2 separate regions of the Homo sapiens genome follow, and region 1 is linked to region 2. The links come from fine-mapping of genetic effects on gene expression. A gene starts in region 2. The other region holds a variant in brackets. All regions are shown on one strand. Distances are from middle to middle. Region 1 overlaps RHBDF2 (rhomboid 5 homolog 2). Region 2 holds the start of RHBDF2 (rhomboid 5 homolog 2).

Region 1 (4,381 bases), 20 kb after region 2:
TCCGGAAACATCCTAAATAACCAGCAGTCTGGACTTAAGTAAATCTTGGTGCATTCCACTTATGAAATCTTTGCATTCATCAAAAAAGACAAGAGGCCTAGGGCCGGGTGTGGTGGCTGAAACCTGTAATCCCAGCACTTTGGGAGGCCGAGGCAGGTGGATCACCTGAGGTCAGGAGTTCGAGACCAGCCTGACCAACATGGAGAAACCCCATCTCTACTAAAAATACAAAATTAGCTGGGCGTGGTGGCGCATGCCCGTAATCCGAGCTTCTTGGGAGGCTGAGGCAGGAGAATCACTTGAACCTGGGAGGTGGAGGTTGCGGTGAGCCGAGATCGCGCCACTGCACTCCAATCTGGGTGACAGAATGAGACCCCATCACAAAAAAAAAGAAAAAAGAAAAAAAGTAGGTCTGTCCGTATGTGTTGACAGGGAAAGATGTCTACAATGCAGGTAAAATGATAGAGTGTGGGCTGGGCTTGGTGGCTCACGCCCATAACCCCGGCTACTTGGGAGGCTGAGGCAAGAGAATTGCTTGAACCTGGGAGGTGGAGGGTGCAATGAGATTGGCTCACAGCAATCTCTTCCTCTCGGGTTCAAGTGATTCTCCTGCCTCAGCCTCCCGAGTAGCTGGAACTACAGGAATGAGGCACTATGCCTGGCTAATTTTTGTATTTTAGTAGAGATGGTGTTTCACTGTGTTGGCCAGGCTAGTCTCGAACTCCTGACCTTAAGTGATCCATCCACCTTGGTCTCCCAAAGTGTTGGGATTGTACGTGTAAGCCACCACACACAGCTGTGTGATTTTTTTTTTTTTTCAATGAGCATATGCCACTTTTATTGTTAAACAGTGTTCTCACTATGGGGGAGAAAAGTGCCAGACAGGTGGCAGTTTCAGTTATCTTTTTTTTTTGAGACATTTTCTCACTCTGTCGCCCAGGCTGGAGTGCAGTGGCATGATCTTGGCTCACTGCAACCTCTGCCTCCTGGGTTCAAGCAATTCTCGTGCCTCAGCCTCCCAAGTAGCTGGGATTATAGGCATGCGCCACCACACCTGGCTAATTTTGTATTTTTAGTAGAGACAGGGTTTTACCATGTTGGCCAGGCTGGTCTCAAACTCCTGACCTCAGGTGATCCACCTACCTCGGCCTCCCAAAGTGCTGGGATTACAGGCATGAGCCACGCACCCAGCCAGTTTTAGTTATCTTTGAAAAATGAACTGGGGCTGGGCACAGTGAGCTTGCACCTGTAATCCCAGCACTTGGGAGGCCAAGGCAGGCAGATGGCTTAAGCCCAGGAGTTCCAGACCAGCCTGGCTAACATGGAGAGACCCCCACCTCTACAGAAAAAAGACAAGAAAAATAAACTGGGTGGCCTTGGGGGACAGGGACCAGCACAGTAGGTTTCTCATCTCTCGGCCCACCTCGGCCTCCCCAAGTGCTGGTATTACAGGTGTGAGCCACCGTCCCTGGCCTGCATCTTCATGCTCTTTTCAGGGTTTGGTTCTTGCCTCAAGCGGAGAGATCAGAAATTGAATGAGGTAGTAAGTTGAGGACCTCCCAGACCCATATGGTCCGGGATGCAAATGATGGTCAGAAATAGACCTCACTCCAACCACTGGGCCTGAGGTTCAGCCTGGTTCAGGCTGGGTTTAGTCCCCAGGGATGGTTTGTTTTTGGTTTTGTGTGTGTGTGTGTGTGTGTGTGTGTGTGTGTGTGTGTGTGTGTGTGTGTTTTCAGACAGAGTCTTGCTCTGTCGCCAGGCTGGAGTGCAGTGGCGCGATCTCGGCTTACTATAACCGCTGCCTCCTGGGTTCAAGCCATCCTGCCTCAGCCTCCCGAGTAGCTGGGATTACAGGCACGTGCCACCACGCCTAGCTAATTTTTTGTATTTTTAGTAGAGACGGGGTTTCACCATGTTGGCCAGGATGGTCTCGATCTCCTGACCTCGTGATCCCCCCACCTCGGCCTCCCAAAGTGCTGGGATTACAGGCGTGAGCCACCGCGCCCAGCCGCCCAGAGATGTTTGAACCAACTTTAGGCAAGTTGGTTCTTGGTCTGGGCTGCGTGCCCTGGCGTCAGGGTCCTGACACTGCGCCACCCCGCACCGCCCACCGCTGCTCTCCCGGTCTCCATTCCAGCCCTCCCGCCTCCTGCCCACAATGGCCTCTGCTGACAAGAATGGCGGGAGCGTGTCCTCTGTGTCCAGCAGCCGCCTGCAGAGCCGGAAGCCACCCAACCTCTCCATCACCATCCCGCCACCCGAGAAAGAGACCCAGGCCCCTGGCGAGCAGGACAGCATGCTGCCTGAGGTAAGGGGGCTGGCCTGGGGGCTCACTGTTCTGCCGTAGGTAACAGATGTACCCACGTGACACTTTCTGGTCAGTTTCACTTCCCAGAGGGGCTCCTTCCTGAGCCACAGCTGCTG[T/C]CTGTGCAGCCCTTGACTCGGGCCCTACCCCCTCCTTCCTGGGCCCGAAATATCACAGGGAGTAAAGCCAGGAACCGGGCTCACTCTCATCGTGGTCAGGGGCACACAGGAAGGGCCAGCCCCAAGAAAGTGCTTGCTGGTAACCCTGGGGCCCTGGCTGTTCTCATTTCACCCCCTAGGCCTGGACTCTCAGTCTCTCTTCTGAGGGCTGGGGGCTTTCTTTGACATGGGTGAGCAGGGGACAGTGTCTCCCTGGCATCAGCAGCCCGCCTAGGCAGTGTCCGCTTCCTTTGGGAGGACGAGAACAGATCAGTGTTTCTGACAGTCTGGTCTAGTGCCCCATAAAGAGCTCATTGAAAACCGGCTTGTGGCAGCGTGGGCTTCCTGCACAGTCTGGAGTATAAAGGGAAGCGATGTTAACGCCCCCCGTTCACCCGAGAGCTCTGCAGAAGACACAGCAGCAGGCAGGAGCGTCATGGTGCAGAGGGGAGGGACTGGATGAGGAGTTAGGAAAACACACGCTGGCCTTGACGGAGAAAAGTTAGACAATGGCGATTTTAAATTCAGAATGAGGCTGGGCGAGGTCGCCTCATGCCTGTAATCTCATCACTTTGGGAGGCTGAGGCAGCCAGATCACTTGAGCCCAGGAGTTCGAGACCAGACTAGACAACATAGCAAGACTCTGTCTCTGCAAAAAAAATTAAAAAAGAGCTGGGTGTGGTGGCACATGCCTGTAATCCCAGCTACTTAGGACACTGAGGTAGAAGGCTTGCTTGAGCCTGGGAGGTCGAGGCTCCAGTGAGCTATGATGGTGCCACTGCCCTCCAACCTGGGCAACAGAGCAAGACTCTGTCCCAAAAAATATATATATAGGCCGGGCATGGTAGCTCATGCCTGTAATCCCAGCACTTTGGGAGGCCGAGGCGGCCAGATCACTTGAGGTCAGGCAGGAGTTCGAGACCAGCCTGGCCAACATGGTGAAACCCCGTCTCTACTAAAAATACAAAAATTAGCCGGGTGTGGTGGCACATGCCTATAGTCCCAGCTACTCAGGAGGCTGAGGCAGAAGAATCGCTTGAACCTGGGAGGCGGAGGTGTCAGTGAGTCGAGACCACACCACTGCACTCCAGCCTGGACAATACAGTGAGATTCCATCTCCAAAAAAAAAAAAAAAAAAAAAAAAAAAATATATATATATATATATATACATATACAAACACACACACACACACACACACACACACACACACATTATATATATATATTTCCAAATGAAAGCAAATTGGGGCATAAATCAGGGTTGAAGTTTGTTCTCAGGGTTTTCAGAATAGGAGGCTAAAGAAAAGCCAGCCCAGGACCTGGGCTGCACACACCACCGCCTGCCCTCCCTCCTTCCTCCCCAAGAGGAAGAACCCAGCCTACTTGAAGAGCGTCAGCCTCCAGGAGCCACGCAGCCGATGGCAGGAGAGTTCAGAGAAGCGCCCTGGCTTCCGCCGCCAGGCCTCACTGTCCCAGAGCATCCGCAAGTGAGCCCCCCTACACCCAAGCCCAGCACCCCCCACCCAGCAACCTGTGGATTCTCGGGGCCTGGACATGATTGGGCCTGGTCCCTGCGTCCCCTCTCTGGAAGGAGGAGGCCGGCATTAATGAGCAATGTCTCCCTGTGGCCTATTATCATGGTATAGATGGGGAAATGGGTATGTGCTTTGCGGAATATCACGGTGTGGAGGCTGGGGGGCTTCGAGGAGCTGGGTGGATCAGTGTGGGGGTGCCTGGGGCCCTAGCCTGGCTCCTCACGCTCCCGTCATCCCCTGCTTCTGCTCATCTGGTCACTGGGCTCCAGCCAGGGGCCTCACAGGCAGATCCGCCCCCCACCTCCCTGTAGGCACGCGGGCACACACGTGCCATCACCCCTTCCACACACTCAGGTGCACAGGCGTAGACAAGCGTATGC
Region 2 (4,381 bases):
CAGAAAGTTTGTATGGATCTACCAACATATATATGTCTGTTCTATTTAAATTTAGGTAAATAGGATTATACTAAACATGCAGCTTGCTTTTTTTTTTTTAACTTACTATAAGTTGGAGATAATTCCTTTCTCAGTACATGGATAGCTGCCTCGTTGCTTTTAACAGCTGTGTGACATTATCACAAGTTATACCCCTGGCCTATTTAACATTCTTCCCTCTCTGGCCTCACAGGTGCGTGTTGCTGCAGCCAAGGCTGTAATCAGCCTCCCTGCACCTATGTGGCCGGGCAGCACGCCATGTTTGCATGGGACAAATCCCTGACACCAGCTTAAGCACCACCATGAATCCCTCCCCTCCTGGGGACTCCTGCAGAGCTTCCAGTAGAGCTCCAGGAGAGAGAACCCAGCTCAGGCATTTGCAGCAGTGTTTGTTAGAGTCTAAAGTCAGATCATGACCGAGTTTAAACCCCAGCTGCTCCCCTCACATCTCCCTCTGCCTCAGTTTTCTCATCCCTAAAATGGGGATGATCATAATGGTACCCACTTCATAGACCTGTACTGCGGATTATACAGACTAAAGCACTTTGGAATGGCTAGCTGCTCTCACCCTTCCTGTTACAGTATTGAGTTCCAACGTCTCCCTGTAGAATGCTGGCACTTCGTGGGCAGGCCCTGGTTTTGTTCCTCTCTGCACATAACCCCAGGATGTGCTGGTTGCACAATAAATGGTCCCTTACATTTGTTACTAGGAGCAACCCCCACCCCAGCTTTGGCCCACTCCCCCTCCTTCCAGCCTGTGCCCTCCTCATGGCCCCAGAGCTGGGGAGGAGAGATGCATCTCTCAGGATAATCTCCAGCAGCCAGGTGCTCCCCACCTCCACCCAGGTCAGCAATAAACACCAGAGTCCTTGGGTTGGGGGGCAGGGTGGCTCAGGAGCTCTCTAAGGGCCAGAGGTTTTGCCTTGGCCCTGACAACCCCACCCCCACCCCTCCAAGCCTGAGTCTCTTCAAACTCTGCTCCTCCTGGCCTAGCCAGGCCTCCTGGAGAGGGACGGCGAGATGATAAGCGCTGGGGCTGAGAACGGGGCATCCAGACCTTGGAGTTCGGTCCTAGCTGCCCTGGCCAAGGTTTTGTTTGTCTAGTCCCAAGAGGCAGGCCCTTGGAGTCCAGGGAAGAGAGAAGGAACCACCTGGGCAGACAGACCCAAGCCAAGGGGCCAGGTGTCGCCAGCGTCCCCAATCTCCAGTCTGGCTCTGGCCCGCATGGCAGCTGGAAGGGCCAGAGCTGGGTGGGTTCTGTCAATGCTTCTACGGGGTGTGTAGGGGGTTGGCAGGAGTCACAAATGTTGGCCTTAGCTGCAGGGCAAATGCAGATAGGACCTCCACGGAGTGCCTGTTCCCAACCCAAGGGCACAGCAGAGCTAGGAGAGAGGCCTCAGGGTCCAGGAGGGAGAGGAGGTGTTCAGGCCCAGCTTCCCGGAGAGAGTGTGACTACAGACTAAAAGGGTCAAGGGAACAGGCCCACTTGGCCTGAGGATGAGGGCGCTGGAAGAAGGGGATGGGAGATTGGGTGCTTTTTCTTGATGGGGAGGGGCGACTTGAAGACGGCAATCAAGACCTAGATGACGTGTTTGGTCTGGGGTGGAGTGAGGACGCCAAGAGGGAAAGGACGGCGCCCTGAAGAGACCAGCTCAGGCGAAAACAGGGCTCTGCCCAGGCGGGGACCCAGCTGGGTGGAGGGCGGAGGCAGGAACCCAGGAAGCCGACTGAGCAAAGACTGCGTCCAGGCCCCGCCCCCATGAGCCCGGCCACGCCCCCTGGAGCCCAGCCCCGCCTCCCGGCCGCCCGCGCGCAGGTAGGGAAGAGGCGGAGCGCCGCCGCCCCGCCCCCGAGGAGCCACCGCCCAGCCGCTCGCAGGCGCCGCACGGAGTTGCGTCCCGGGGACTTGGGGCCGCAGGGAGGTGAGCGCGGGGCGACGAGCGGGGCAGGACTCACGGCCGCCCAGCCGCAGGCGCCGGAAGGGTCCCGAGGTTGTGCCCGAGCCTGCCCTGGAGCGGTGGTGCGCGGCCAGGAAGGGTGCCCAGTGCCCGGTGCCCGCCCTGCGGAGCGCCTGGGTCCCACGTGGGCTCGGCTGGAGGCCCGGGCTGGCTCAGACGGCGCCGGCGGGGCCGCTGGACCCGGTCTGCTGGCCCCTAGGGCTCGGCTCGGACAGGACGCCTAAGGGGTCCCTGGGCGACGGGGCGCCAGATGTAGGGGCAAGACGATTGGGCAGAGATTTAAACCTCCGGAGGAAGAGAGGAGACTGCGCAGGGCAGTCCCGCCTGCGTCCCAGAAGTGCCTGCAGTTCAGACCCTTCTCTCCCCTCCACTTTCTCCCGGGTGAGCACCGGGCGGACCGGGGCCGAAGTTTGTTGGTTGAGCCAGCCAAGGTGGAAACAGGTGCGGGGGTGGGGATGAGGGACTCACACAGCAGGGCTGGACCGGAGCTCAGAAATTGGACCCAGGAGTCCTGACTTCTGGATGGAGGGGCTGGGGAAGGTTGGCCCTGGGCTTGCCTTTTACCTGTTTGGCCCCTCGGATGTTCCCCCAGGGCATTGGGATAGAGACGGATAAGTTCCCTAGGGTACAGACCCCGCCCCACTCCCACGCCAGGGCGCAAAGGAAGCCTAGGTTTTGGCCCTGCCCCATTCCATGAAAGATTAACGGAGGGGGCTCTAGGGTTGGAGCTACTGAGAGGGTGGCAGCGGGTGTGTCTGAGGAGCAGAAGGCGGTGGGGAGCTGACCCCACTTGGGGAGAGGCTGCTGTTGCCTGGGCGGCTGGCATCAGGCCCCCAGTGTGTGCCATTTGCTGGTAATATAATGAGACCAGCATCTGCCTTATTCGACCCTCACTGTCCGTAGGGCAGGCAGTGGAAAGGGAGGCGTGTTTTAGAGCTGTGGTTCTCAACCAGGGGCGACTTTGCCTGCCATGGGATATTTGGCAATGTTGGAGTCATTTTGGGTGTCACACACTTGGGAGGGGAAGTGAGTGTTGTTGTTACTGGCAGGTAGTGGGTAGAGGCCAGGGACGCTACCAGACATCTTCAGGGCACGGAACAGCCCACATAACGAGGAATTATCCAGCCCAAGGTGTTGGGCTGTGCTGAGGCTGAGAAACCCTGCGCAGCAGCTGGTCCATCAGGTTCCTTCTCAATGATGCTCCCTCACTGGGGAAACTACCTCAGTTTTCCAGAGTGGTTAGGGGAGGAACTTGGAATAAACCTGAATGAGATGAGGGGTAAGGCAGTGTGAGGGCACTTATTCCCCTCACAAGAGTCTTCCTTTGGTGCCATGAGACACCGCCTTTCCCAATCTCCACTGGCCCTGCAGGAAGCTGGTCTAGGTGCTGTGGGGGAGAGGTTGGGAACAGAGGACCCCCTTGCAGCCCAGGCCTGGGGTGCTTAACCCCAGGGCAATCTCCCAGGAAGGCTGGGCTGAGGCAGCCCTTGAGCTCAAATATCCCTGGGCTGGGAGGGTGGGCAGAGGGCGAGCTCTCTTCCCATAGATTTTCCCAAAGCTGGATTGCTGAAGCTGGCATGGTTGCCTGATACCATGTGACCTGCTGGAATTTTCCCTTCTGAACTCACACCTAACTCCTCCAATTATGTACACCTTTTGAAAGTGACATCCAAGGAGTATCAGGGCTCCTAATTCCTGGGGGGTCCCCAGGCTGCTTTTGTCCTGCAATAAAGAGGGCACCCTGGGTTAGCTGACGAGCCCTGGAGTGGGCCCAGCTGCTGATGGGGTGGAGGCACCCCTGCCCATGGTGTTAGCTGAGCAGAGGTGAGAGATGGGAGACATCAAAGCACAGGCCAGGTGGCCCCCCAGTAGGGATGACTCAGAGTTGTTTGTATTGGGCTGGAGGAATGTACTTCCAGTTTTCTGGCAACAAGGAGGGGTGGCTGGCACGGTGGGAGAGGATCGGATGAAGCAGCCACGTCCATGCCCAGGAGCTGGGGCCACCTCGCTGCCCTCCCTCCCTGTTTTCTTGCAGTAGCCATTATACCCATCCTGTTCACTTCTGGACCCAGCCTTCTTGCCTGGGAACCCTGGTGGAGGTTTCGAGCTTGGGTTCTTTTTGTTGGTGTTGGTGGCTTTTGTTTTTTTTGTTTTGTTTTGTTTTTGTTTTTGTTTTTTTGGTCTCTTGACTGTAAAAGGCTGAAGTGAAACTCCCACCTTTTCATTTGCACAAAAAACAAAAGTGGCCTCCATTGCTGTGAGCCTCTCAAGGGACAGGGCTGAGCACCCAGGCTTGTACAAAGTTGTTCAGGAAGTCGGCAGTGGAGCTCGGGTGTGAACCCAGTTGCCCACCCTCAGGCCCCACCCAAGAGCCCCACGAACAA

What was found.
Region 1: its variant is fine-mapped to the expression of RHBDF2 in whole blood (TOPMed, PIP above 0.99).

What each region holds. Positions count from the first base shown.
Region 1 is chr17:76,479,305-76,483,685 of GRCh38, reverse strand. RHBDF2 (rhomboid 5 homolog 2) reads left to right here. Exons shown (of 19, transcript NM_001005498.4): 3 at 2,141-2,311; 4 at 3,832-3,953. The coding sequence starts at 2,162. Among named protein-coding and RNA genes, the nearest start is that of AANAT, 14 kb to the right of the region's middle. RefSeq lists silencers at 1-139, 1,814-1,863, 1,924-2,023, 2,844-2,913. The variant T/C (reference allele first, on the strand shown) is at 2,428.
Region 2 is chr17:76,498,933-76,503,313 of GRCh38, reverse strand. RHBDF2 (rhomboid 5 homolog 2) reads left to right here and starts at 1,891. Exons shown (of 19, transcript NM_001005498.4): 1 at 1,891-1,961. RefSeq lists enhancers at 1,474-1,613, 1,964-2,633 and a silencer at 1,664-2,303.